4 linked regions of the Homo sapiens genome follow. The protein of the gene in region 3 purifies or fractionates together with the protein of the main gene of each other region. This does not show direct contact. Each region holds a gene or a part of one and is shown on either strand. Other genes may lie near its edges. The genes, in order: SLMAP, FGFR1OP2, STK26 and SIKE1.

Region 1 (7,285 bases), on a different chromosome or scaffold from region 3:
AGGGCAAGTTCAACTATGAATTACAGACTTTTGTTGTTTGTTCAGGGTTTCTTTGGGACATTTAATGAATCTGTATTCCATGAGTACAAGGAAAGGACATGTAGGATAATGGTGGTGGCAGGAAAAAAAAAAGCTGAAGTATTTATTCAGTATGGTTAACCTGCCAAATAGCCAAACAGAGATGGGCTGAACATTTGCTCCTGTAAAATATTTAAGTATTAAAATTAAATTTAATTTAGATGAAAATTTAAGATAAAGAAATATTTTATATCTGAAAAACAGAGAGTTCTTGCATACTTGTGCAATTCTTTTTCTTGCCGTTGCAGTTCTGATGATAGCAAAACATTTTCCCTTTTTAGAGAATGGCATTCGGTTTCCAATGCATTCCATTCCTTTCTCAACTTCTCTAGTTCACCTAAAATAGTCCCAAAACATATTTGTTAATACAGAAATATAACTTCCATAATACTTCAAAGGATAAAGGAAAAGATTTCAGAGGAGAACATACTTTTTGCCCCCTTAAAAGCAAGTAGATTTTACATGGTTAATTATATGATTCCTGTTACTTTGCATGTATACCTCAAGGACTGCTATCAGCTTGTACTTGAACAATAGTATTTTTTTCCACTTCACTTTTATAAGACAAGCAATTTTTAACAATTTTAAAATAAAATATAAAACCGTAAAAAAATATAAATTTAAGTAGAACTTGCAGACCTGAAAATACATTTTTAGCTCCGATTTAAAAACATTGGTTTATACAACTGATAGCTAACAAAGAAAAAAAAAGCCTGCATGTTTCTTTTTTAAACAAGTTAAGAAGTTATCATTGTCAAAAGTTAACAGCTTTATGTAAAATACATTTATTCACCTTGCAACCTTGTTGCTTCTTCTCTCTGCTGGTCCTCACACTGTTGACATCTAAGCTGAAAACTGTTTTGCAGACTTGTGATTTCTTTCTCATATTCAGACGCTGCTTTCCGCCACCGCTCAAGCTCAGCTCTCACCTTCTTAAGCTCTTCTTGTAAAGAAGCAATGTCAGTGTCCCGCTCAGAGGCAACCTTTGCTGCTGCTTGATGAAGGAGCAAAATTTCATCTCGGGCACTAAGCAATTCATCTCTAGTACTTGTGATTTCACTGTCCTTCTCCTCCCGGAGATTCTCAGTATCGATGTGTAACCTCTGCAATTGGGCTGCAAAAGTATATCCATCATTTTCTTGGCCCATTAGAATAAAAGAATAATCCATACAGGATTGTAGCTAATGCATAACCTGGGTTGTCAGAGCTGTTGCTTTTGATTAAAGTGTATAAACAATCCACGTTTGATGCAGAAAGCGTCAAAATACAGATAGCAAAGAGGAAAAAAAAACCAAAGTGATCTTCATCTCCCCAACACACAGAAAATTACTTCTGATATTCCTTCTGGATTTTTTCCTATGCATTTATAAACATGTAAAAACAAACATTAAATAGGGAGTGATCACAATAAATGCAGTGTTCCCTATCCTTCTGTTGATGAAACTCTTTCAACAAAAAAATAGTTATAGTATATATAACTTATTTGCCCAACCCTTTATTTTTGACATTTTAGGCTGTTCAGTGTTTAAACACTATATACAATCCTTTTTTTTTTTTTTTTTTTTTTTTTTAGGGTGAATCCTATGTGTAGAATTGCTTGGTCAAATGGTAAGCAATAAAAGCAATAAACAGTTGACGCCCTTGATTCGTTTTTCTGTTCAAATGTCAATTCTTTAAAGAGGCCTTTTCTGATGACTCATGTGAAAAACAGCTCACTGTCATTCTCTGGCTCTTTACTCTGCTTTATTTTCCTTTGAAGTCCTTATTGGACATCATATTATCTATTAATTTGCTTATTGTTTATCTTTTCTACTGGACTGTACACCTCATGTGTGTAGGGCATTTGTTTTGCTCACAGCTGTCAGGTATTGGGGATACCCCAATATCTAACACAGTAAACAATCAAGAATTATTGGTTGAATTAATGAGTTAATAAAATTAATACTGCCTCATTGAAGGGTTATATAGATTTTTAAAAATACCTGGTTTTGTGCTCATGACCCAAACTGGAAACAATTTGTATAAAATCAAACTTGGCGCAGAACAAGAAAATTAATATTGGTTACCATATTATAAGGAAATTGTAGATTTAAAAAGTTCCAAAGGAAAATAATTAATTACAAGAGGATTTAGGGATGGGAGAAAGGGAGGTTGCTACATAAGTAAACATTAAGATATTAGACTTTCTAAGTTTGTAGGAAGGACTGAGAGGTAACAAGTTTGGAATCTGAAAGGGCACAATGGCCAGAGAAGATGATCATGATTTGTTGATACAGTCGTGAAATACACATGCTGGCACCAGGGGGCACTCAATAATGCCTGGGCAAGACAGGTTTTAAAAAAAAGGTAGCACTATGTCACAGAACCTTTAGGAAAAATTGCCCCTACACAGTCTACGATGAAAATAGAGATCCAAATCAGATTTATGTAAATTAATGGATAATGACATTAAACTACAATAGGAGTTTTAAGAGCTTTCAATTTAAAAACACATATGACATACCCTAGAAATTCTAATCTGACCAAAATAAAATTCTAATTTTAAATAACTCAAATGTTCCACTCAAAAAATAGGACCCCAAAGACTAGTTTTTCTCTGCGATATTTTTGGGCAAGTATCTTGGGCCTCGTACAATGACTCTCCCTTCTCTTCTGAATAGTGATTACTTGTCTATTTAATTTCTTCCCCACCTATCTCTCAAGCTAAAATTTTAAAACAACATTGGCTCCTTCTTTGACAAGAAGGCAAATTAATTTTACTTTAGGAATTTTACAATGGCATGGGAAAGGAAGACCTCTCCTGGGGTATCATATAATTTCCTCATAATATACCAGGAGCTCAAGCTTGAAGTAAACATTCGACAGGCAGGGGTCTTTCTGGAAATTTCTGTAATAACCCTGTAATAGCCCAGACAAAGAAATAGCAAAATGGTGATAAGAAGAACAGCCATTATCAACGAAAATCAGTGCAGAGACTACTATCCTATTCCACGTGATATATAATTTTTCTTGAGGCCAGGTGCAGTGGCTCATGCCTGTAATCTCTGCACTTTGGGAGGCCAAGGTGGGTGGATCACGAGGTCAGGAGTTTGAGACCAGCCTGGCCAATATAGTGAAACCCCATCTCTGCTAAAAATACAAAAATTAGCTGGGCATGGTGGCATGCACCTGTAGTCCCAGCTACTTGGGAGGCTCCAGAATCACTTGAACTCGGGAGACGGAGGTTGTAGTGAGCCAAGATCACCACTGCACTCCAGCCTGGGCAACAGAGCAAGACTATGTCTCAAAAAAACAAGCAAAAAAATATTTTCTTGCAATACAAGTGTGTTCTGAGCATTAGATGGCAATATATCTACACCAGCCATCAATATATACATATACCAGCAAGCTCAAAGTGCTGACGCAGAGTAGCTCAAACAGATTTCCTATCCAAAGGCCCTCTGTAGGAACTCACGACATAACTCAGAAAGTGACAGTCTTACCAACTCCAAATCTTCACCTCTGCTTTTTCCATTCTAAGTGTCTAATACGAGAGTACTGGACAATCTTCCCTTGAATTTTCTTTAAAAAAAAAAAAAAAATAGGCCAGGCGCAGTGGCTCACACCTGTAATCCCAGCACTTTGGGAGGCCAAGATTGGTGGATCACCTGAGGTTGGGAGTTTGAGATCAGCCTGACCAACATGGAGAAACCCCATCTCTACTAAAAATACAAAATTAGCTGGGTGTGGTGGCGCATGCCTGTAATCCCAGCTACTCAGGAGGCTGAGGCAGGAGAATTGCTTGAACCTGGGAGGCGGAGGTTGCAGTAAGGTGAGACCGCGCCATTGTACTCCAGCCTGGGCAACAAGAGCGAAACTCTGTCTCAAAAACAAATAAATAAATAAAGCTCCACCAAGAGCCGTGTTGAAATGTGAGGTTCTAGAGAATCAAAGCCATGAAAAATGGGGACTCTCTGCCTTCTTACTTTCCATTTCATTTTTTTTTTTTTTTCTGAGATGGAGTCTTGCTCTGTCACCCAGGCTGGAGTGCAGTGGTGCAATCCCAGCTCACTGAAACCTCCACCTCCCAGGTTCAAGCAATTCTCCTGCCTCAGCCTCCCGAGAAGCTGGGATTACAGGCATGCACCACCATGCCCAGCTAATTTTTGTATTTTTAGTGGAGACAGGGGTTCACCATGTTGGCCACACTGCTCTCGAATTCCTGACCTCAGGAGATCCACCCTTCTCGGCCTCCCAAATGCTGGGATTGCAGGCATGAGCCACTGCGCCTGGCCTCCATTCCTTTTGAATCACTAAAAACAAACACACAATAACAATCTCAAAGAGCCTTGGGGTCTTCCATACCTTGAAGAACCTGTATTTGTTTAGTGGATTCCTCAACTTGATTTCGATAGGCTTTTCTTTCTTCTTCCAAAAGAGCTAAAAGTAAAAACACAGTATCTATTAATAGTTTTGTGAATTAATGAAAGTACTCAGAGTTGAGCAGCTGAAAATTTCTTTTAAAATTCTCTCCTAAAAGATTATTGAAAGAAACAAAAGTTAGGCAGTAAGTATTATCAGTATTAGCAGTTAGTTTAAAGATTTTAGGAGCACAGAACTGTAGTAAGTAATAAATCTATTCAACTGAGTAGTGGAGTTTTCTGGACCTGGTATCACCAAGACAATATGTGCTTTTCTTAACATGAGAAACAGTCTTGATAATTGTTAATCAGCATTTTGAACTTAATTTTTTAAAAAGACTTAAAATTCTTATATTTACTGTCAAGCACATAGTAAACACTAAACTAAATAATTGCTATTTACCAAATATTTTTTCATTGTAATTTAATATATTAGCCTGGATCCTCCAAAAGGTTCAAGTTAAGTGAATACCAATTCTAATTTCTTTGAGAATTAGGAAAGGAAAGAAGTAGTAACAAGAAGTTCCTAGTTCCCTCCTGGGATGTAAATCTTCCTACTAGGCAGGAAGGCCATCTTGGAGAACATGAGGGCTCCAGAAGTCATTCCCTTTCTCATTTTAAGACTCTTTGAGATACTAATTGTCTGCAACCAGGTAGTTACTATGAATGATACAGAAATGTAAGCTCTAGGGAACTGCACAGACTCCACTGGCTTATGACCTATAGATAAGTGAGCTACTAGAAAAGAATGTGGCCAGGACATTAGCTAACATTAGGCATAATAAAAATTTAGAAATTTGAGTTTTCCTTCTGTTGTACTTAATATGCAATTAACTATTAAGATCTTTCAGTTAGTAAAGATCTTACTTGATTTTCACATCAACAGTGTGAAGGTAGAGCAACTGTAACTCTCCTCATTTTACTGACCTGAAACACAAGTTTAGAGAGGTCAAGTAAATATACCAAGATCACATATCTCATAAAGTTGTGAATCTGGAACATGCCTCCGGACTCCAAGTTTGGGGCCACCCAATTATATTGTGCTGCCTCCACACATCCCTAAAGAACCAAAGTAATCTTGATCTCACCTTGAAGTTCAAAGCATTTTTGTTTACTTGTTCTAGCTAGCTCCTGGGCTTCGATCAATTCCTTTCGAAGATGCTGTATTTCTTGCTTTGCCTCAATTTCTGACTGTGCACCCTGCAAGTCATCTGACAAAAACATGTTTATTTTAAAAGCAAGAGTTAGTATCACACTATAATCTACAATAAAAGACTGGTAATCTCTCTCATGTTTGCACATGCATAAACAACATAGAACAACTGAGTTAAATAAAACTTAGAAGCAAATTATAGTAAGCATTTTAGTAGTTGGGAGAAAATACAAATACAGTTATATATATTAGTAATCATGGTGATGACATTATAAAAATATATTAACATAAATTATATATTCACAATTCTAGCATCAAAATAAACAGACAGTGACAGATTATAACTCATTGCTTATTAAGACTTGAAATTCAGTGAGATGAGCAAAATGCTATACTTCTTCATCAATTTTGAAATTTCTTGATAACCAGTCAGAAAAATTTCACTTGGAACTTAACTGGATATGGAAAACAAAAAGAAACTTTTCTTCAAGTAACAGCTAAATTTTAGCACAATTACCCTAGTTGTGGAACACAAAATAAAAACTAGGCTGAAAGCTCTACTGAGCCTACTTTGTCATCATCATTTCCCCAACACGCACATATAACAAATATCTGAGCTGGGCGTGGTGGCTCATGCCTGTAATCCCAGCACTTTGGGAGGCTGAGGCAGGCGGATCACGAGGTCAGGAGATCGAGACCATCCTGGCTAATACGGTGAAACCCCGTCTCTACTAAAAACACAAAAAATTAGCCAGGCGTGGTGGCAGGTGCCAGTAGTCCCAGCTACTTGGGAGGCTGAGGCAGGAGAACTGCTTGAACACAAGAGGCAGACGTTGCAGTGAGCCGAGATCGCGCCACTGCGCTCCAGCCTGGGCAACAGAGTGAGACTCTGTATCAAAAAGAAAAAAAAAAACCGCAACAACAACAAAAATCTGCTGAATATATTAAATGATGTAACCTAAGTGGTTTTACCGAAATAAATTAAATCCAGCATTCTATTTCAAATATGCCCCTTCCCCTAAACTCCTTCCTCTCCAATCATTCTGCTTTTTAATTTTTTAAAACCTTCTGCTACTGAACACTGCCTGAAATAAATATATCATCAGGTAAGCCATATTGTTCTAATGAATTCTATTTGAGTATCACCTTGGTTTATAAGTACCTCAGCATAATAACTTCAATTCATCAAAAAAGAGCTAAGAATAACTTTCACAATACAATTACAATAGGTTTTGGAAATTATATATATATATATATATATATATATTTTTTTTTCATATTCATAGATTATATCCTATTTTTCTCTCTAGAAAAATTGTATTCTGGCCTAGGCGCGGTGGTTCATGCCTGTAATCCTAGCACTCTGGGAGGCTGAGGCAGGCAGATCACTTGAGGTCAGGAGTTTGAGACCAGCCTGGGCAACATGTGGAAACCCCGTCTCTACTAAAAATACTAAAAATTAGCTGGGCGTGGTGGTGCGCGCCTGTAATCCCAGCTACTCAGGAGGCTGAGGCACGAGAATTGCTTGAACCTGGGAGGCAGAGGTGGCAATGAGCCAAGATCGCGCCACTGCACTCCAGCCTGGGCGACAGAGAGTGACTGTGTCTCTAAAAAAAAAAAAAAAAAAAAAAGAAAAAAAAAGAAAAAAATTTGA
Region 2 (7,285 bases), on a different chromosome or scaffold from region 3:
AGTTCTTCTTTCTCTTCAGCTGAGAATGACTTTTATTTCACCTTCATATATGAAACATATTTTTGCTGGATATAGAATTTTGGGTTGATAGGTCTGTTCTTTCAGCATTTTGAAAGTGTTGTTCTACTTTTTACTGGCCTTCATTTCTGTTGGGAAGCCTACAGTCATTCAAATTGTTCTCTATGAGTAATATGTCATTTTTCTCTGGCTGCTTTCAAGATTTTCTCTTTGTCTTTAGTTTTTGGAAATGTGACTACAACGTGTCTGGAGTTAGATCTTGTTGGAAACTCCTGCCTGGGGTTTCCTGAGGACTGGGAATGATGAAGACAAGGTTTCTTAGAAGGAAGCAAAGTGTTACATCATCGAAATGTATAAGTTTCAACTATTGAAGTTAAATATGTTTTTATATTATTGGATGACAAGTTAGAATGCGCTTGGGAGAATACACAAAATACAGTATTTTAGTCATTGTGAATATTGTGTCTTTTCGGTAGGGGACTCTTCTAAGGTATTCATAACGTAAACATACTAGAATATTTAAGAATATTGCCTGGCATGGTGGCATGCACCTATATAGTCTCAGCTACTCAGGAGACTGAAGTGGAGGGTCTTTGGAGTCCAGGAGTTCCAGCCTGGGTGATGGCAAGACCTCGCCTCTAAAAATAACTAAACTTAAAAAAATAATAATAAATATTTCTAAACCATGGAGAGAGGCAACTCCATAAAATCTTCTTAGAGATGTTCAGAAAGTTGTTCAGGAATGGTTTTAGTCGTTGATTCACCATTACAGTTTTTCTTTTTCATTTTGAGATGGAGTTTCGCTTTTGTTGCCCAGGCTAGAGTGCAATGGCGCGATCTCAGCTCACTGCAACCTCCACCTCCCAGGTACAAGCGATTCTCCTGTCTTGGCCTCCCAAGTAGCTCAGATTACAGGCTTGCACCACCACGCCCTGCTAATTTTTTTGTATTTAGTAGAGATGGGGTTTCATCATGTTAGGCTGGTCGCGAACTCCTGACCTCAGGTGATCCACCCACCTCAGCCTCCCAAAGTGCTGGGATTACAGGTGTGCACCACCACACCTGGCCTACAGTTTTTCCAGATTAATTTATTTACAAATGAAGCATGAATTAACCAGTATCCTATGCTATCCAAGGTAAGTTTTCCCATTCGTGTTTAATATTGTGGCCATTTTTTTCTACTTAAATGAAATGTTTCATGGAGTAGTATCTGTTTGAGGTTTTTTTTGTTTGAGACAGAGTTTTGCTCTTGTTGCCCAGGCTGGAGTGCAATGATGCGATCTTGGCTCGCTGCAACCTCTGCCTCCCGGGTTCAAGCGATTCTCCTGTCTCAGCTTCCCGAGTAGCTGGGATTACAGGCGCATGCCACCACACCCAGCTAATTTTTGTATTTTTAGTAGAGATGAGGTTTCATCATTATTGGTCAGGCTGGTCTCGAACTCCTGACCTCAGGTGATCCACCTGCCTCAGCCTCCCAAAGTACTGGGATTACAGGAGTGAGCCACCGTGCCTGGCCCTGTTTGAGGTGTTATGTGGTACTATCAAGTAGCCATTCTGATTATGTCAGTTTTTATCTTCATGGATCTTACAACTTGATGGTCACAATGGTTCTTTTGAAATTTGACAGGCCAAATTTTGTGTATCTATCATGGAGTCTTTTAACTTCTTCATGGGTTTATTTTACAGTTTCATATGAGGCTTTTGCATAAGGACATTTAGTCAAAGCATCCCGCTTATAGTAACGAACTTTAAGGTATTTCTATGGTATCTACAATATTGTTTCTACCTTTATGATAGCAGTTATATTAGGCAGCTACCATCAAGCCATCAAGTAGTTAATGTATTCGTTGTTTTTTTTTTTTTTTTTTTTTTTTTTGAGACAGAGTCCCGTTCTGTCACCCAGGCTGGAGGTGCAGTGGCACAATCTCGGCTCACTGCAAGCTCCGCCTCCCGGGTTCACGCTATTCTCCTGCCTCAGCCTCCTGCGTAGCTGAGACTACAGGCGCATGCCACTACGCCCGGCTAATTTTTTTTTTGTATTTTTAGTAGAGACGGAGTTTCACTGTGTTAGCCAGGATGGTCTCGATCTCCTGACCTCGTGATCCACCCGCCTCGGCCTCCCAAAGTGCTGGGATTACAGGCGTGAGCCACCGCACCTGCCCTGTATTCATTGTTTTTAAAAGGATATCTGAGAAACCTCTTTTCTTTGCAGCATTTCAGAGAAGTGGATTATTCTAAAAGCATATCACCTATTCATGTATATATTTACTTTCAGTAAGTTGCTCCATCTTAGTGGAGCACAGTTAAGTCATTTGATCAGTCTGGCTTCTGGTAAGAAATTGAATTTTATCACAGTGACTGATGTACCTGTTGCATATCAAGCCTGATACTGCTGATTTTTGTTTTTAAGATAAAACCCATTAACAAACAGTAAAGTCAGGATTTGGTACTAGAAAATTCAAAAGTTTTGTTTTGGACTTGAATACTTCTTGAGTTATGGAATCACAATCATGAGATTTTCCTTGCAGTAGGTAAAGGTTGCTGGATTAATACTGTTACACAGTGAATGGTAATATGAAAAAGAGAGAGTAGCAATATTTCATGATTACTCAAATGATAGAAATTTTGGATGGTTTCCTTTAGCAATAGGGATTTACTATGCATGGTAACATGAGGTTTAAAGACCTAGAATAACCTCTGAAGATGCTTTGATTAATTCAGTTGAGGTTTATAATTGCTCGGAGGCAGGGAAGCTAAACCTTAGCTGCTGAATTAAGGTATACGATTTTTTTTTTTTCTTTTTTTGAGATGCAGCCTCACTCTGAGGCCCAGGCTGGAGTGCAGTGGTGCTATGGCTCACTGCAACCTCTGCCTACTGGGTTTAAGTGATTCTCCTGCCTCAGCCTCCCAAATAGCTGGGATTACAGGCACCCCCCGACCAGGCCCGGCTAATTTTTGTATTTATTTATTTAGTTAGTTATTGAGACAGCCTGTTGCCCAGGCTGTAGTGCAGTGGTGCAATTTTGGCTCACTACAACCTCTGCCTCCCAAGTTCAAGCAATTCTCTTGCCTCAGCTTCCTGAGTAGCTGGTATCACAGGTGTGTGCCACCACGCCCAGCTAATTTTTGTATTTTTAGTAGAGACGGTGTTTCACCATGTTGGGCAGGCTGGTCTTGAACTCCTGAATTCAAGTGATCTGCCCTCCTCGACCTCCCAAAGTGCTGGGATTACAGGTGTGAGCCACTGCGCCCAGCCCAAGGTATACAATATAATAGACAGTGGGGTTTTGATGTCGTGTTGTTAATACTCCCAGGACACAGGGTACTATTTTTGTACTCAAAAAGATTTATGATTATGTAGGAAGACTATCTAGACTGAGGGCTATTTAGCTATCTGATCATATATAGGACCTTATTGCGTTTTATTTGGAAACAGATCCTGTCTATTGCATTTGTAGATGTTATGTTTTAGTGTGTAAAGAAGGGTTCTTCTTATAGTAGTCCCAACAATATCATTTACAGATTAGGACTGTTAGAGAGTTCTATTACTTGAGTTCTATTAAACCAAGGTAAACTTTATTTTCTCTCAAATCTTTTACAATTTGTTGTAGAGTTTCAAATTTGTCTTTTATTACTTTCACCATCTGTTATAAACTATTATTTTTACTATAAAACCAATTTTTTTGGTTATTTCATTTTTCTTAGTACAAGTCAGTGCCCGTCCTTTTTTTTTTTTTTTTTTTTAATTTTGCTTTACAGACAGCTTTAAAAGTTTACTCAGAAGGATCCGATGTTCTATAGTAATGGGATTAATGGGAGTTATAGTGATGTCCATTTAACCTATTTATGTTAACTTTCTTAACAAATAAGAAAGTTGTCTGTCTACAGTTTTAGATAATTTCCTTTGGAAATTTAGAGGAAGTACAGGGTATTGTTGGGCACTAATGCCTCTCTCAGAACGGCATCTTCGGATAGATTTTGGGTAGTTGTCCTTTTGGGTATTAGCCAGTATCAGACAATATTGGTTCCTTTAATGGCCCTTTTACTCCTCATATTTTCAAGCATCCTTATCTAAACCTCCTGAATCTTACAAGACAAATCTTGTGGTGGTTTTCTCTAGAGAGCCAGAAGTTATATTAATTTCCAGCTTGTTTACTTCTTAAGGCTCTCTGGAAATGTCTGATCATATATTGGACATTTTCTAAATTGGCGATTTAAATAACAGGAGAAAGTCTTCTGAAATTGCCTGATGTGTTTTATGAAATATTTTATACTGTTGAGTTATTTAAATTTTCTCTTTGCTACTTGTTGCTTTTTTTTTTTTTTTGTATTGGAGGGGATAATCATTAATTGGACTAGTTGGTACAGATCTGTAGTCCAGGGCAGTGGTATATAACAAAGTCCTGAATTCTGTGGCAAATTGCTGTTTTAATAAAGTTGATGAAAGTCTTTGTTTATAACCCTTCACTTGGATCTACACCAAATTTTAATTTAACTTCTGTAGACGTGGCTTCTGGCCTGGTAATTTAGTGTGATTTTATTTTTTGAGGAAACCCTGAAGAAAGGATGACTTATATTGAACGTTAGGTAAAACTTAGTAGAAAGATAAAAGATTTCAGCTGGGCACGGTGGCTCACACGTGTAATCCCAGCGCTTTGGGAGGCCAAGGCGGGCGGATCATGAGGTCAGGAGATCGAGACCATCCTGGCTAACACAGTGAAACCCCCGACTCTACTAAAAATACAAAAAAATGAGCCAGGCGTGGTGGCAGGTGCCTGTAGTCCCAGCTACTCGGGAGGCTGAGGCAGGAAAATGGCGTGAACCTGGGAGGTGGAGCTTGCAGTGAGCCGAGATCACGCCGCTGCACTCCAGCCAGCCTGGGCGACAGAGCGAGACTGTGTCTCCAAAAAAAAAAAAAAAAAAAAAGGAAGATAAAAGATTTCAAGGAGGGTAAGTGTAAGTTTCAGGAGAAACTTAAAGTTTTGGAAAGAGACTTTAAAATTATTAAAATTTTGTTTGAGGTTTCTACATACCAGTTGAAGAAGCTGACAATTGACTGTTTCATGTTTTGTCTCATATTTCTTTCAGCTACTCTTAAACATATTGCTTACTGATTTTAGCATATCAGAAGTTTCCTGTAATTACCAGTTTTGTCCTAAGTCAAAACTTTTTTTTGCACTTTAAGGAAGATGCAAGAGTTAGAATTATAATGCAACTTTATGTAAGAAGCAGAAGTTCTTCCAAGAAGAGGTTGAGACTTTAATGTAGCATGACACATTGAGGCCACTTCGGCTGGTCAGCAGTGTTTGTGAACAGTGTGTCAAGTCACCTGACCAAGCAGAGGTTAGGAAGCATTCTTACAGTCAAAGTTTTCAGACAGTCATTGACCCCAGAATACTGACCAGTAAACCAAATGATCTTCCTCAAAAGTGACAAGATAGGGAATGCCCTCATAAAGGGCAAATTTCTATATAACATTATATTCCTTGGACATGTACTTTTTTCCCCACTGTAAATTTAGAGTGTTTTAAATGCGTTCTAGTTCTGTCTGCAAATCTTTTAACTGTGTTCTAATTTTTTTGTAATAGTATAAATTTACTTTCAAGTTTGTAGTATCCTAACAGAAGCAAAACCACAGTGTTCTTAGGTGTTTTTTCCTCCCTGGACAGTGAACAATACTGTAACAAATGTGGCTTAAGAAGCATATCTGTGTTGACATGAAGCTAAAATAAAGAGATATGTTGACTTTATTTTGAGTCTTGATTTTAATTTTAATTATAGATATATCTTTAGAAATGAGTTGCACAATTGAGAAGGCACTTGCCGACGCTAAAGCTCTTGTTGAAAGATTAAGAGATCATGACGATGCAGCAGAATCTCTGATTGAGCAAACCACAGCTCTCAACAAGCGAGTAGAAGCCATGAAACAGGTTTGATTTTTCTTTCTTGTTCATTCCATTTATCAAAAGCAGTCATTGACATTTATGTATTGCTGGCTAATTAGTATCTAATTTTTTTCAACATTCTCTAAAATTTTAAAGTAGCTTGACTTGTGTGTTTCAGGTTTACTTTAATTTTGTCGTGTTCAGGTGATATACCTAGACATATATTTCTAAACCCTAGATTTGATCACTTATTTTGCTGACAGAGTTGCACATTTGAGTTTAGAAAATAAATGAATTTGTTAGGTCTAGAAACATTTGACAAAGACCAGATAATACCTTTTACTAATGTTGGTACACATTTTGTTCTGTCTTGTATAATGTAGAAATGTTCATATTTTTCTTTATAAAAGTACTTAGGTGATGCTGTTTAACAACAAAATAGCTTTTGAAAATGATGCAAGGTAATATGTGATTTATACTCTGTGCAGTTATTGTACCCATACTTGCTACCTTATTTTTCATTCAGTGCTACCAATTAAAGAATACATAAGGGCTTTCTTCTTGCTATTTTTACTATTGTATAACAGAATATTCCCATGGGCCACGGAGTTTAGACACTATTTTAACCTTCTTCTGATAAAAATTTTCAAGTCATTTAAGAAAATTATAAAATCTCTGACATTATGATGGAAATCAGAGGGGGAAAATGTATATTCACAGCCAAATCTCCTCATCTATTTTGTAAAAGGAAGCAATTCTGGGATAGTATTTTTAACAAAGCTACTGGAAATAGTGGAGCAAGTTTAGTTATTTGGTTTTACAACTGTGTTGCCCTAAACAGATTTACCTGCATCCCTAACCAACTGTCCAGCTAGACTCAGGCACTTCAGTGAACATATATCTGGTATTGAGTTGTTAAAAAAGGAGTTTGACATCTGAAGTTAAGAACCAGGAGTGTTATAATGAATATGTTACTAAGTGTCTCATGAGAATGCCTTGAAAATAAATAAGTGCAATTTTAAAATAAGATTCTCATTTTCTTAATGGAAAATCTTTTTGCATTTCTTTTGTACATGTTCTATTAAGATATTCACATACCATAAAATTTACTTTTTTGAAGGGTACAGTTCATTGGATTTTAGTACACATTTGCAGGTTATGCAGTATAACCACTACCTGATTCCAGAACATTTTCATCACCACAAAACCTTACATCCATCAGTGGTCTCTCTCTAGTTTCCCCTTTCCTCAGTCTCTGGCAACCACTAATATTTCTATCTCTTTGAATTTGCCTATTCTGGACATTTCATATAAATGGAATGATAAAATATGCGGCTTTTTGTGATTGGCTTCTTAACATAATGTTTTTAAGGTTCATCTAT
Region 3 (8,117 bases):
AAAGGTGGAAGGTTATTCAGGAGAATTCGGAAGTCACACAGTTTTAATGTTTAAGGTTTAATGTTCCTTGACCAAGGTCTGATTCAATAGGTTTCTTCTTGGGATGCTATGCTGGAACAATAGCAACGATACATATGACATCTGCAAGAACTATCATAACATGGTTTCCAACTTGATGTCCAATGAGAGTAAACAGTAAATTTGAGGTATCATCTATGCTTTTATTAAAATAAAAAATGGCCCTTGAATGTTGTACTTCCAAATATCAGTAGACTCCGCAGCCTGAATCAAAATATTCCCATCACTGGATGGTGAGCTTCTAGAATTACCCAGATAATTTTCTTTAGTTTCAAATACTCAGGTAAGTATATCAATTTGCCATTATATTTCATACATATATACATTTTATCCATTTCATCATAGTCACTAGGCTCAAAATGTGTAAGTCCAAAATGTGAAATCCTACCTTTAAATTTTGTAAAGTAGAATAAGAGGTCAAATTTATCATGATGAGTTAACATATTTGAAGGCTAGGTAATGCCTGGTATATTAGAACATGCTCAGTAATTAATTTTTTTAAAAAATCATTATTTTTTTACTTAAAGTTATTTTCTGTTCAACACTATTTTTCATTAAGTTGTATTCACTTTTAGGGGGCAGATGATCTATGGTTCATTACAGAGGTAAAATAAGAATACTGCTTTGTTTCTATTACCCACTTGATGTGGCTCAATATCTTATGAGTCTTTTCTTTATTTGGTCCCAGCCACAACACTGAGCTAAAATCTTCAGAGAACAATGATTTTCAAGTCTGTTTCTTGGTTAGTAGCTCCTAATGCAAAAAGTGCGGAGCATGGTTTCTCAAACCTTATCATTATTGACATTGTGGACTGAATAGTTCTTTCTTGTGGGGACTGCCCTGTGCGTCGTAAGATGTTTAACAGCATCCCTGGCCTCCACTCTCTAGATGCCAGTAGCACCTACCTGCCTATTTGTGATACCCAGAAATGTTCTCCAGAAGGCATAATTGGTCCTAGTTGAAAAACATGCCCTTATTTCACTGCCGCCTGTATTAAAGTTTGGCTATTTCCATCTACCTACACTTTAGCTAAGAACCAGTCAATTCAGTAAATATTTGTAAACATGGGTAAAGTTAAATATTTAATACAGGTTGAGCATCCCTAATCTGAAAATCTGAAATCTAAAATGCTCCAAAATTGGAAACTTTTTGAGTGCTGACATGATATCACAAGTAGAAAATTCCATACCTGACACCTTTGCTTTCTGATGGTTCAATGTATACCAACTTTGTTTCATGTACAAATTAAAAATATTGTATAAAACTATCATCAGGCTATGTATATAAGGTGTATCTGAAGCATAAACGAATTTAATGTTCAGACTTGTGTCCCATACCCAAGATATTACGTATATGCAATTATTCCAAACTCCAAAAACATCCAAAATCTGAAGCACTTCTTGTCCTAAGCATTTTGGATAAGGGATACTCAACCTGAATAGAGGGTATGACAAATGTCAGGAAATTGAAACCAGGTGCCAAATGTAAATTATTAAGTTTTGAGGCCTCAAGAACACTGTCTAACTTGAAATTCACTAACCTTACCTAATCTGTGTATAATGTTACTCAAAACCTTACCTAATCTGTGTATAATCTTATTTTATTTATATGGTTATTAAGTATTCACAGCCATTCAGATCACATCAATCAAGCAGGTACCAAATCCTTTCTGAGGTGCTATGTTACACTCTACGTGTGACCAAAAAGCATAAGTTGTGTCTCTCCTCAAGAAACGTTTTCCATTAAACTACGGGAATACACTGTAATATATTTTCAGACTCTGGGCTGACTTTTTTTTTTTTTTTTTTTTGGAGATGGAGTCTCGCTCTGTGGCCCAGGGCGGAGTACAGTGGCATGATCTCAGCTCACTGCAACTTCTGCCTCCCAGGTTCAAGCAATTCTCCTGCCTCAGCTTCCAGAGTAGCTGGGATTACAGGCACACACCACCATGTCCAGCTAATTTTTGTATTTTTAGTAGAGATGGGGTTTCGCCATGTTGGCCAGGCTGGTCTCAAACTCCTGACCTCAGGTAACCTGCCCGCCTCGGCCTCCCAAAGTGCTGGGAACAGGGGTGAGGCACCACGCCTGGCCTGGGCTGACAATTTGAAGTAAAATATTTAAGTTTCCTTTGTGTGTGTGTGTAACAAAAGCGTACTTGAATTTCTTGTCATTTTATTTAAGAATTTGAGAAATAATCCAGTTCAAAGTGGAAAAAAAGTTTCTAATGCTCATAAAATTTGAATTGTTTTCAAATGTTGACACCTTCACAAGATTTAATTTATAGATACACACACACACACAGACACAGACACACACACACACACACACAGGAAAAATCATTTAAAAGCCCACAAGCAATCCCATGTAAAAACTCAAGTGATCTCTATCAATTATAACAACAACTGATGCTTTATTTAATAGCAGTAAACCTAAATAAAGGCTAAAAAGCTCACTAAGATCTCAAATGCAATGTCTTTCAGGAAATGTCTCAATATTCCAGGTCTCAGCATTAAGCTTTTATTCTTCCACATAGTTACATAACTCTGGCCCAGAATGATGTCAGAGAAAGTCATTTCTCTGATATGCTTAATTTACTTATCTATCAAAATTATACAACTGGCTCATAAGTAGTTGTGAAATTAAACTAGCAGGAAAGAATTTTGGAGACTAAATAATGAAAGATGTAACACACAATAAACTGAACAATTTAAATGTTCAGTAAGGGCAATGCCTAGGGGTTTAACCTGACATCAATAAAATATATAGTGTATACATTATGCACCTAGTAACCTCAGTGGAGAATTCAAAAGAAGTTCATTCATTCATTCAACAATTATTTATTGAGGGCCTACTACATGCCATGAACCTAGTCTCTGGGGATACAGCAATGGACAAAATGTATAAAAAGCTTGCCCTCAGACTCCTGCCATCCTACCTGAATCATTCTCATGTAAGAGAGGCTGGATCTCTGCCCTCAAGGACCTAATATGGGCACACAAAACAAATGAAATATATGAAATAAGAAGAAAGAACTACAGTGTGAGCGCTGCTCACATTGGAGGAGTTTGAAGGAGGGCTTGGAGCAACTAGGAAGGGTCAATGGAGGTGAGATTTGAGACAGGTCTTAAATGATGGAGCTTGATTCAGACCCTTGCGACTTAAAAGTGTGATCTAAACATCATCACCATGTGAGAGCTTGTTAGCATTGCAGAATCTTGGGCCCAGTCCAGACATGGGAGATAAAAATCTGCGCTTTTGAGGGAGCAAAAGAACCCTCGGATTTCTATGGACATTAAAAGTTTAGGTGGCACTGCAGGTTTCCGGTCAGGCTGGCAATGTTGTGAGCTGGGTTGGTGGGAAATCGAGACTAGATTGGAGCCTAACATTAGGTTAGAAATAGTGAAGGGCTGGACTTGGGGAACTAGGAGTAAGGAAAATGCAATTGTACCTTTTATCATCATTAAACACAAACAGAAACCATAGAGAAAGTAGTAAGTTTATCACCAGTCAGAGGGACCTGCGTCTGAATTCCCAGCTGTACCACTTCTTAATTGCGTGACATTTCGGTCAAATTATTTAACCTGGTTGAGCCTTTTTCTTCATCTGTAAAATGAGGGGAAATCAATAAGACTCCAGAAGGCCCTTGTACAGGTTCAGTAAGGTATTAATAACACATAGAAAGCACTTAGCAGTCCCTGGCACAATGAAAATAATATCCATTAATAATAACGATATTGATAAGAATTATATACTATTCTCTGAAAAAGATTTAAAAGGAAGAAGAGAAACTATCTTTTACCACTAGAGGCCCCCCACCGTGTGGTGCGTAGAGACCCATAACAAATTTCAAGGTAAGGAACTTCATCTTCATTTTAAACTGGCACTCGACTATTACTTTTTTAAAAAGTAATTAACCCCTTACGTGTTCCCAAAGGTGCCTTCATAATGAAATTCCTGTTACTATTATTACCAGTGTTACTGTCGCTACTGTTAGAGTACTCTCAAAAGAGCCTGTCTCCCTCTCCTGGAGTAGAACTTAAAATGGGGCGGAGGCAGGGAGTTACCAAAACCACTGCAGTGTATGCTGATTTCAATAACCTGTACTGCTAACGATCCAATCTCATTTCCCAAGCCTCTACTATCCTCATTAATTTTTCTGCCGATGTACCATCTGTTTTCCAATTTCCCTCTGCCTTACACGTGCAGAACTTGTGGTAGAGAGAAGCCCTAGTTTGGCCGTTCTGCAAGGGATAGCCCAGGAGGTAGGGGGAACCTTAAGTTGAAGTCACCTGAAGCATGTTTGGGGTCAGGGAACTCGGAAAGCAAGAGTGTGGCCACAGATCTGCCCAGAGGCGCGACCCCCAGCTGAGGAGACCAGATGGCGGGAAAAAGCGGGGGTCCACCGACTCCGCGGCTATCTGTAATCCTACCCTTGGCCAGGCCGGGGAGCCAAGAAAGACTTCCAACACTCCCCAAGTTTCAGCTCAAGTCGTCTCCGAGGCTGCGTGTGCCCCAGCCTCGCACGCCTCCCTGCAACGTGGCCGCATCTGGGGCGCCCTCATACCCTCAGGGTTTCCCAAACTCTTCCATTCTCTTCCCAGGCCCAGCCATGTCCCAGGTCTCCGGGTCCCCGGGTTCTCCTCTCCGCGTGCCGGGAGAGTCTCCAGCTTCTCAGACTCCAGCAACCCCAGCCAAACCTCTTCGCTGCCTGGAGCCTTGGCTCCCGCGACACCGCCCGGCTGCGGGGCGGGGGCAGGGCCAACGGCGGAACCGCCCCCAACCGCCTCCCAGGCCAGGCGAGCAGGCGGGTGGCTGGGGCGCCTCCACCTCCTCTTCCTAAAGCGGCGAGGCGCAGAGGAGCGGCATCACTCGAGCCCAGGTCCCAGCCACCACCACTCACAGCGCTCGGCGTTCAGGAAGAGGAGCAGCAGCGGAGGCGGCTGCTTCAGCGGCGGGCGGGCGCCAGAAAGGTAGACTGAGTCCCAGGGAGCTGCGCCGCTAACAGCCCACCTCCTAGCCCCGGGCTACGCGCCGCCAGCCCAGTAACCCCACTTTTGTGTGTCCTCCCAGGCCCCGATCGAAAAGCCTGGGAGGGCCGCCGAACTACCCCCGGAGGGAGGAGCCAGTCCGAACCCAAGGCGCCACCGCCGCAGAAGCGGAGCGAGGCAGCATTCGCCTCCATGGCCCACTCGCCGGTGGCTGTCCAAGTGCCTGGGATGCAGGTGAGGAAGCGCAGGCCGCCCCCGCCGCCCACGTGACTGCTTGGGAGCCCGGTGCGCCCTCGGTGCTGGGCACCGGCGACAAGGGACGGCCCCAGGGCTCCCCTGAGGGCAGGGCCGGTCACTATGGCCAGGTGACCTGGGAGTAGGGCTGGAGGTGTTTCCTGGTGTGTAGGCTAGGTAGTGCTCTTCGCTGGGAAGGCGAGGCGGGACTGGAGCGCGCAACTAGGTGGAGATTGAGGGCGGTTGGGGGTATAAAAATAGGCCAGAGCCACAGACACCTGCGCCTGCTGAGCTTGGCACGGTTGGGGATGGGGGGGCGGAACTTAACCTGGGAGAGATGGAAGTGCCTTGGAATTTGTGGGGTATAACGCGAGTAGTGAGTGCCCTACACCCCCCACCCCAAACACACACTCAAGTTGGGGCGGGGCAACACCAGGGGTGGCGGCGGCGGCGGCTTGAATTGGGCTCTTCCTGTGTGCGTAGGGCTAAGAGAGAGGTGACCTCTTTCTCCCTTTCGGTACTGCTGCTTAAGGGCAAAGTTGTAGCTTGCTCCCCGACCTAGCCCAGCCCATAGTGTGGCGTGAGAAATGCTGGTTCTGTTCAGAGTCACTGAGGTGATGACTTCTCAGCCCCCTCCGTGCCTTTCCCACAAGATGACTGTTACATGTGGTTAAAGGAAGCTTTTTGTCTTGGACAAGGGACTACTGCATGGGACCCAACTTGTTACTCGAAGTCTACCCAGCCCAACCCCCTCCCATTATATTTTCATTTTATTAAAGATAAGCTATGTCAGAAAACTTTTTATGCTGTTATGTTTTTAAATCGGTGCATTTTAGGCTATCTGCTAAGTGTTATCCAAATTTACTAACTTTTTAAAGCATTCATGTTCTATTTTTTTTTCCTTTGCTAGATGGCCTAAACAACCCATTTAGGGGCTAAAACCACTGAAGCCTCAGTCTTTCATGATCTAAAATGTGAAAACAAACTTTTTTGAAGTTCAAAAATAAAATGTTTATAGTAAATAGCTTATATTTCTAGTAGAAATCAAAGAGCTGTAGACTGGGGCCTCAATTTACTTATTGATACATGGAGTTTTTTTTTTTTTTTCAGTGTTCTCATTTTATGAATGTCCACAAAAGTGATTTTTAAATTCTTTCCCAAAATGGGATTTATTTGTGCACCTAGAACTCTTGGTGTGTCCTAAACACCAGACATTTCAGCTGCATTTAGGGCAAGTCTGGGTTGAGTCTCAGGAAGTTAGTGTATATTAAATAAAGAGAGAGAGAGAAAGGGAAATAGGAAATAGTAGGGCTTAAAAAAAAAGATTAATCCACTCAAGCCTTGCAAAATGCCTTAAACTTTCTTCCTCTCAGGCGGCCTCCCCTCTCCTTCCCTCCTTCTTTTCCCCACGCACCCTGCCCCACACCCCATTCATTCAGTTCTGCCTTTGATTGTATCAAGGGAATTCATAGTTCACAATACTAAGTACAGTTTTGCTGTTTGATCTGGGAAAAAGTGACATTTTCTCACCGTGCTCTTCTTTCCATTCTGTGGAGAGTAAAACGATGCACATGTGAAGTTTGTCTCTGAGGGTCTCCATGCTTCTCGCTCCATTGTGTGCGCGAGCCTGCGTGTGTGCGTCAGCAGAGTGAGTGCCTCCAGTTCATCAAGTTTGTGATTCTGGGGAACTCTGTGTGCTGAGGGGAAAATGGTTTCTGATTTTTATTTTATTTGTCTTGAACTTATTGAATTTATATGGTTTAGGAACTGCTTGCTGTTCAGTATTTCTGATTGCTCCCTGCTTTTAATTATCTGAGTTGCCTATCTCTTGAATTTTTAAATCTTAATTAATGTGGATTCGAATGTGAATCATATACTTTAAATTACAAATTCTGCCTTTCACTCTGTGCCCTCTGAGTTGTGATTACTTTGTCCCACCTAATTTGAGTAGGGCAAACATCTCAACGTTAGCAAAGAAGAGAGGAATCTTTTTTTTTTTTTTTTTTGGTCATTCTCTTCATCTTAATGAAATGGTAAATTCTTAACTTCTTATTTCCATTTTATTTCTAATGTAGTTCTTAAGCACTTTGTGCAGCACACAGTTTTTTCCATAGTTGAAAATGTACAATACCTTAATAATAAATTTGATAGCATGCAGTGTGACTCTTGAAGCTAGACTATTTTTATTATTGTTATGTAGCAAAATATTGCAGATGAGATGCAGAAATCTATCGTGAGCTTGTAAAATTCTCCTAGAGTTTTATGAAGGCGTTAGGAGCAACTTTTAGACCTTTAGAAAACTTCAGTTAGCCATGTGTTCTTGAAATTACTGTATAGTGTTTCCACAAATCAGGGTGAGGTAGCCGACCAGCCTATAACTTTTTAACAGTTTATTTTAGAGAATTATGAAGATTGATGGGAAAAATGATTTTTCCAGAAATACAAAGAAAATTACTTTATCCACAATTATTTTCTCCCTCTGAGGAGAGACGTGAAGTAGAAGCCCAGCTACCTGTTCTATCACTTAAGATTTCCAGCATTCCTGACTTTCAAACAAAGAAATTGCTGTTGCCACTAGTTTAAAATAGAAAAGAAACTTGGAGTGAAGAAAGAAAACCCAGGATTTCGTCCAGTTCAAACTCTTCCTTATGAATTAGTTATTCAAACTCATATTGTTGATATTTCTTAATATTGTGGTAACGAACATTTTTTGCCACGTTACACCAAATGTTGAGGGTATGAAGTTTTTTGTACTTAATTTGTGCTTACTTCTTTAGTGTGTAACTAGAGGAATTTTCCATACCAGTAGCTGAACT
Region 4 (7,285 bases), on a different chromosome or scaffold from region 3:
AGGAGGCTGAGAAAACATTACCTGGTACTTTCAAATTCTTTAGGAGGAAGAAATGCTCTGCCTCATTAGGTGAGGGATTCCTTAAACACAGGAGTTAGGATACTGGGCAGCCAAAAGAGAAATGACAGATGTCTGCTACAGCCCATTCTCTTGGCCATTCAATGTCAACACACTCCTTCAGCTAATTCTTCCAAAACTATATTCAAGGGGAAAGGACTTGACAATATAAAGTCACAGACATGTCACAGTCACAGACACTGTTAATTGCTTTCTCAATATTCTTTCTTCTTGCTAATACTGATTTTATTTGGGACAGCTATGTACCCTGCTTTCTTTGCAGGTACCAGTGGCCATTTAACTGGTCAGGCAATTAAGTCAAGGGAAAATCCATTTGGGATTTCTGAGAAAGCTTTGCTTTCCCTCATAAAAGGCGATATATATAGCTGGCACAGGCCATTTCCATTTTTTCTTCCTTGCCTTCAACATGGCCATGACATTTGGCTTGGCAACAACTTTCTAGCAAACACAAGAAAACAGCATGAGGGATGTAAGCCAATATGGTAAGGAGGCAGATTTGAAAGACAGAACTGCACCTTTTCCTGTATATAGTAAGAGTCACTGATTAAACATTATTCCTTTCAGTTGAATCACACATACTCTCAGCTACACCATTCTAGAAAATAATATCTCATTAGTTAAGACTCCATTTATTGAATTCATAATACTTTATAAGCTGTGGTGTTTCTTTTGCACTAATAAAAATAGATTTTGCTAATCAAGAACCACTTGAACTCCCAACAGTATTTGGCATTTAGGCATCTCAAGTTAGTTAGTGATTAAAAATGTGCTTAAGACTCTGTCTGGGTTTGAATCTTGGTTCCAGTTTGGACAAATAACCACCTCCTTGTGCCTGAGTATCTGCAAAATGAGGTACAGTTAAAATGGAGTTTATATAATACAGTACCTGACAGGTAGTAAAGCACTCAATAGATGGTAGCTATTATTGGCAATACCATACATACTTTGCTTTTGTGGCACCAAAGTTTTCTATTTCCCTCCTACCCATTTATTATCTCTATTGAATTCTCAAGTTTAAAGTCCCTCTTCTGTATCTTATACATACTATAATGGATTTATCACACTGCATTATAATTTTATATATATACTTGTCTCCTGTACCAGACTTTTTCATTTTTAAATTCATAAGTACTAATGAAGTGGTTGGCACATAGACTATTTTCTTTTTCATCTTTTAGAGTGCTAACTATTACACAATGGGGCCTAGACTAGATATTTTAAAATCAGTGTCTTTAGGAATTGTTTGAGATGATTAGAATACAAATTCTTGAACTTCATCACCAAGTTTCTATTTCAGTAGGTCAGGGAAGCACATTTTGAAGAACACTAAAATAGACCTTCAATGTTTGAATCCAATTATGCATAAGGTATTAATATAAGAATTATACATAAGATATTGATATAATACTACACTAATATAAGGTACTATTTGTAGAGTTATACACTGCTGAATATACTGTGCTAATTACAAAGTATTTATGACTCTTGTGAGGACCACTTGACAAGGTTGCTATATATATGTAAAAAAACCCTCTGCACTTCCTCATTTGACTTACTACTGAGTAAAATTAGCTTATCTTCTCAAAATGCAGTTTTTGTTAGAAAATATAATTTTGAACTAAGATTTTTGCAAACCAGGCAAGTTCTTCATCCACTCAAGGAGAAACTTTAAAATCCACTTAAAATGAAGAGCATTCCTCCCCGACTCAATTTTCTAACTACATATTATCTTCATAGCATTAACACCAGCCAGAATTTATATTATGTAGAGCACTAAAAGCTTCTTAGACTTGTACCTCAGGCTTTTAATTTTGCAGGGGGAAAAGTTAGTATGTCGATTTATCCTAACACTTGAGATATAAAGAACTTTATAAACAGCTCTAAAGGAACATAAAGCACATAAAGGGACACCATATTATACCTTGATTTGATTACTTCATCATTTTCACTGAAATCTGGCCATGGTAGGTTTGGCCGTGGCTGCCAAATGGTATAGAGTACCTGCCTCTTGAATGGATTTATGGGGTCACTTAAGGTATACTTCGAGGCAGATGGCTGGGCTAATAGTTACTTACTTACTCTTGGGAAATGAAATAAAAAATGCTCACACTTGGAAGTGTTTTTTTTGTCAAATTCTATGCAGGATATCAAACAGAAATTTGAAAAATTCTTAAATGACATATACCTATTCATTAACACCCACTGCTCTAGATGACATCCATTAGTTATTACTGGGATCAGATGCTTTTAGGACATCTTTAAAATATTTTGTTATTTTAACTGTAGTTCTTTATAGCATTACGAAAGAAATATCACTCACATAAAGCACTAACAACTCTTTTTAGTACTGTGTCTCTCCCATGCAGTATGGTGCTTAATGTTACTGGAAAATATTGACAGGTTTAGCATTATTTCAACTAATTCTGGGCAAATCTAAATAGAATAGTATAACATGAAGAAATTTATAAATTTGAAATGTGAGTAAACTGGGACGGGAATGAGTTGATGAGTGAACCCAGTTGACCACTGGGCATTTGAATCTCAATGTTGCCTACACAGCATTATGAGTGTAATAATTTTCATTAGGTAACAAAACTGCTTCCTCACCTTTTTATATAGCTTAAACAAAAAAAAAGAAAAAAGATAAAAAAAAACCCTGCTTCTATGTAAACAAAAAAAAAGAAAGCCAACTATTAGTGCTAGGAATGAAAGACATCCAATCCAAGTAAGTGATGGTTCTTAACTATAAAATGGAAATTGTATAAAAATTAAAATAGAATGTAGAACTAGTAGGATAACATTGAAAAACTGACTACTTATATTTGTTTTTTTTATTTTGTGTGTGTTTTTGGCTGATTATATTTAATAAAAGCTACTTTTAGTATTTGAACTAAGTGCACATGTGTGCATTCACATACACAGGACAAGCTCCTCAGCTTTGAACAATATGAACTTTGGACAATATGACAACTATAGCATCACTGGGCAAAAAAAATAGCTGACTTATTTCCAAGTGTGTTTCCTGGGACTAGCAGTAGGTTCTCTCAAATTAAAAGTAAAGGCACCAGGCTATAAAGTGCCAATTCTTAGCACCAGAGAGACTTAAAATGTCACAGGTGAATGACATTACAAATCAGAGAATCTGCTGATCTAGTTCTGTGGAATTGTATTATTTTTGTCAAATGGAAAAAAAAAATCAAGGTTTATGCCAAATAGATTTAAACAGTTAAATCTTTCCTAAAATTTCCTAGAAGTGTATTTTACAATGCTATGTAAAATAAATTGCTGGCTTATAAAAAATGCTCAAAGTTTCAGAGATGTGAAAAATAACAAAGAACTGAAAACATAGTTTATATAAATCAAGGTCCCAGAAATGAAAATTAAAAGTAGTCTCTTTGAGAAAGGAATGGTGAAATTCAGCATGTAGTATTCACATTAACACATCTGAGAACTGTGGACAGCCAATATTGACTGGAATTCTAAATTGCCACCTGATACCTTTAATTAAGATTAAATCAAATCTGAGGCAAGACACTTAATGGACAGTACTTGAATGGGAAGACAGTAACTTCCTTCCTTGATAGACAATCTCCAGCCATCATTCAGAGTTCAGTTATTTGATGGCTTGGGAAGCAGTGTCCATTGAGTTTTCCTTTCTGGCTTGAAGAGACTCACTGCTGATGGACAATAATTCTCGAAGTTCCTTATTTTCAAGCTGGAAAAAAAAAGGCATGTTTATTTCTGGTATTTTTACTGTCCAACTGCATTACAACAACACATTATTTTGAGCCAGGAGCAGAAAACATTATTTTAATTTTAAAAAATTTATGGAAACAAAAAATCCACTAGTTGAGAATTTCCTTAAATACTACTTTATTCATTTAACAAACATTTACATGTAGGATGTAGGCAATGATACTCTTTTGTAGTAGTAATTTACTGAGTAATTTCTATATACCAAGTGTTAGGATTACAAAGGAGAAACAAAAAACAAGGTCCTCTCCATTTAAGGAATTCACTGTTATATTCTTCTTGGTTCCCACAGTTTTACTATTATTTCTTTTATTTAAAAAATTCCTAATAATCGTTTCACTCTGATTAATCTCCTCTCCTGGATATCTTACAGTTCTAGAGAAATGGAAGGAAAGGGGGAAAGAAATTACTTATTGAGCATGTAGCTGGGTACTACTTGGGTGCCCTGTATATGTTATCTCACAATAATCTGTAGGGTAGGTATCATTGCCTACATCCATATATTTCAGATGAGGATACTCTGGCTCACAAAATTCCTAAAAGTTGTCCAAATTCAGACAACTTGGATGTGGTATTGCTGGGGTCTGAATCTGGTGGTCGTGTATTTTCTACTTGAAGTATTAAGGTAGAATTTGCCCCACATTTCCTTAGGGCTGTTTCCGTAAGTGAGGTAAATCGGGGATAAATAGAAGGTCATGCTATCATTTCACTAGCTCCTAATTCCTACTTGGGACCTGTCACTACCTTTGATTTCTAGAGAGGGTAGCTTCTGCTCTTCATCCTTATCCTCTGCAGAAAACTCTGGTAAACCAAAGCATTTTTAGCTTCACCAAGATGTGCGGAAGTCCCAGCTAGAGTAACTAAGAGATTAGAGCCTGTGGTCGACGAATCTTCTACCACATGAAGTGCTTCCTTCGGTATTTGTATCTGTCTCCTAGCATTTACATATTATTTAATATCATATAATACTAGGGTTATCCCTTCCACTAGACTCTGGGCAGGTATCTGTTTTTTTCTCTCTGGTATTTCTCAAAGGCCCCAGGACAGCACCTTGTAATAAGCAGCATTCAAACCATTCACTGAAATGCTTTGCTTTTTTTTTTTTTTTTTTGAGACAGGGTCTCACTCTGTCACTCGGTTGGAGTGCAGTGGCATGCATGATCGTGGCTCACTGCAGCCTTGACTTCCCAGGTTCAGGTGATCCTCACACCTCAGCCTCTGAGTACCTGGGATTACAGGTGTGCACCACCACACCTGGCTAATTTTCTGTATTTTTTGTAAAGACAGGGTTCCGCCATGTTGCCCAAGCTGCTCTTGAACTCTTGGGCTCAAGCAATTCACTTACCTCAGCCTCTCAAAGTTGAAATGTTTTTCCTTAACAATTTTATGAGCACACTAATACCCCGAACTTTTTTTGTAACATATTCCTATTCTAATCAAAATATGACATAAACATAGCTTTTAAGAAATCAAGACTACAAGGCTTATACAAGCAGTTCTTTGGCTTTGTACCCCAAATGCAACCACTTTTAACACTTTTATCTATTTCTTTTGGTATTTAATTCTGTAATTCTAAATAATATGCTTATACTGCTATTTCCTGATCATCAATTTTAGACATTATCTACTTCACTTCTTATTATGGCAGATGAAGGATTTTATCTCACATATAACTTCTCCCCTCCACTCCCTCTACCTTCCCATATGATAATACCTCAAGTTCTTGCCAATACATAGTTGGTATTTCCATTGATTGCTGTTTACTATATTTCCTTTCTTCAAAAGGGTATAAAAGGGTATGAAGGAGGAGTTTTAATTTTAAATCATGAGCACACAGAAAACATCAATATATTACAGTGATGGGATAGTGATGGCATATCTTCCAGACTCGGAAAACTATGAAATACTGTGAACCTAAATTAGCTACAATCTTACCTCTAATTGGGCTAATTTTTCCTGAATCTTACAAAACTGGTCATCATCCACCTGAACTGCTTTCCTCATCACTTCTCCCATTTCACAGATTCTGTCAATCTGACTCTCAATTTCCTGTGAAGATATTAAGGAAACAAAGGTGGAAAAATCACCTGTTCTGTAGATATAAAGAACGTAAAAGCATGTGCATTACGATTTTTAAAAGTTCATTTAATCTATGATACAGAAGTTACAATGGAGTTTCCCTACAATTTTAGTCCTCAGACATGAAGCCATAGTAAAGTGACCTTGTATTCACGGATATTTTTTTTTTTTTCTTTCAAAAAATCAATTGTGGAAGACAGTGTGGTGATTCCTCAAGGATCTAGAACTAGAAATACCATTTGACCCAGCAATCCCATTACTGGGTATATACCCAAAGGATTGTAAATCATGCTACTATAAAGACACATGCACACATGTTTATTGCGGCACTATTCACAATAGCAAAGACTTGGAACCAACCCAAATGTCCATCAATGATAGACTGGATTAAGAAAATGTGGCACATATATACCATGGAATACTATGCAGCCATAAAAAAGGATGAGTTCATGTCCTTTGTAGGGACATGGATGAAGCTGGAAACCATCATTCTGAGCAAACTATCACAAAGACAGAAAACCAAACACCGCATGTTCTCACTCATAGGTGGGAATTGAACAATGAGAACACTTGGACACAGGGTGGGGAACATCACACACCGGGGCCTGTCATAGGGTTGGGGGAGTGGGGACGGATAGCATTAGGAGGAATACCTAATGTAAAGGACGAGTTAATGGGTGCAGCACACCATCATGGCACATGTATACATATGTTAACAAACCTGCACGTTTTGCACATGTACCCTAGAACTTATTTAAAAAACAAACAAAAAAAAGGCCTCCTTAAGGGGATCCTCATTCCAGTTGTATATGTTCTATTGATACCACTACTAAGGAATACAGTTTTTTAAAATATATATAATGTTTCTTATATTTAAAACCAAGAAGTGAAGAGTAGAATGCATTTTCTGTTTTCGCTCTTTGCCCAGACATCAAGTTGATAATCATATGGTTATCTGTGATATGCATCAGCTCATAAGTAACCCTTTGGTATGTGAACATGGGGAATTTTAAAATACTGGGCTCTTCAATATGGATTTGTGTTACACTCATGTCATCATCTCATGCCTTCCAAGATTTCAAAGGATCTGATGGCTGTAATTGCAGAGAATAAATGAGTAATCTTTAGTCTATTTCAGAAATAGAAGGCCACATGATTCCCTTTCCATAAAGGACTAAGGTTTCATCCAATGCCAACTCTGGTAAGGCCTTAGTCATTTTTGTGGGTGAAATCTGATTCGATGCAAGCAATGTTATTTTCATTTCTGAAAATTATCTATGTCCAGTGCATCAATCCCCCAGTAGGTCCACACTCCAATAAAAAGATTTGAAATGGAAAAAAAAAATCAATTGTAGTTTAACTACCCATTGGATGT

What was found.
Region 1: the proteins of STK26 (region 3) and SLMAP purify together in Homo sapiens (affinity purification with mass spectrometry; 5 studies listed by BioGRID and IntAct, with this or other methods). This does not show direct contact.
Region 2: the proteins of STK26 (region 3) and FGFR1OP2 purify together in Homo sapiens (affinity purification with mass spectrometry; 4 studies listed by BioGRID and IntAct, with this or other methods). This does not show direct contact.
Region 4: the proteins of STK26 (region 3) and SIKE1 purify together in Homo sapiens (affinity purification with mass spectrometry; 4 studies listed by BioGRID and IntAct, with this or other methods). This does not show direct contact.

Annotation. Positions count from the first base shown.
Region 1 is NC_000003.12:57,906,288-57,913,572, reverse strand, and holds part of SLMAP (sarcolemmal membrane-associated protein), read right to left. Parts: intron 5,690-7,285; coding exon 5,567-5,689; intron 4,519-5,566; coding exon of another isoform or gene 4,498-4,518; coding exon 4,423-4,497; intron 1,687-4,422; exon of another isoform or gene 1,652-1,686; intron 1,435-1,651; coding exon of another isoform or gene 1,382-1,434; exon of another isoform or gene 1,193-1,381; coding exon 872-1,192; intron 416-871; coding exon 298-415; coding exon of another isoform or gene 231-297; exon of another isoform or gene 1-230. UniProt on the Homo sapiens protein: Associates with the striatin-interacting phosphatase and kinase (STRIPAK) core complex, forming the extended (SIKE1:SLMAP)STRIPAK complex.
Region 2 is NC_000012.12:26,948,346-26,955,630, forward strand, and holds part of FGFR1OP2 (FGFR1 oncogene partner 2), read left to right. Parts: intron 1-5,799; 5' UTR 5,800-5,813; coding exon 5,814-5,948; intron 5,949-7,285. UniProt on the Homo sapiens protein: May be involved in wound healing pathway.
Region 3 is NC_000023.11:132,018,359-132,026,475, forward strand, and holds the start of STK26 (serine/threonine-protein kinase 26), read left to right. Parts: upstream 1-4,943; 5' UTR 4,944-5,049; intron 5,050-5,149; 5' UTR 5,150-5,259; coding exon 5,260-5,301; intron 5,302-8,117. UniProt on the Homo sapiens protein: Serine/threonine-protein kinase that acts as a mediator of cell growth. Modulates apoptosis. In association with STK24 negatively regulates Golgi reorientation in polarized cell migration upon RHO activation.
Region 4 is NC_000001.11:114,770,580-114,777,864, forward strand, and holds part of SIKE1 (suppressor of IKBKE 1), read right to left. Parts: intron 5,881-7,285; coding exon 5,767-5,880; intron 3,794-5,766; coding exon 3,692-3,793; 3' UTR 1-3,691.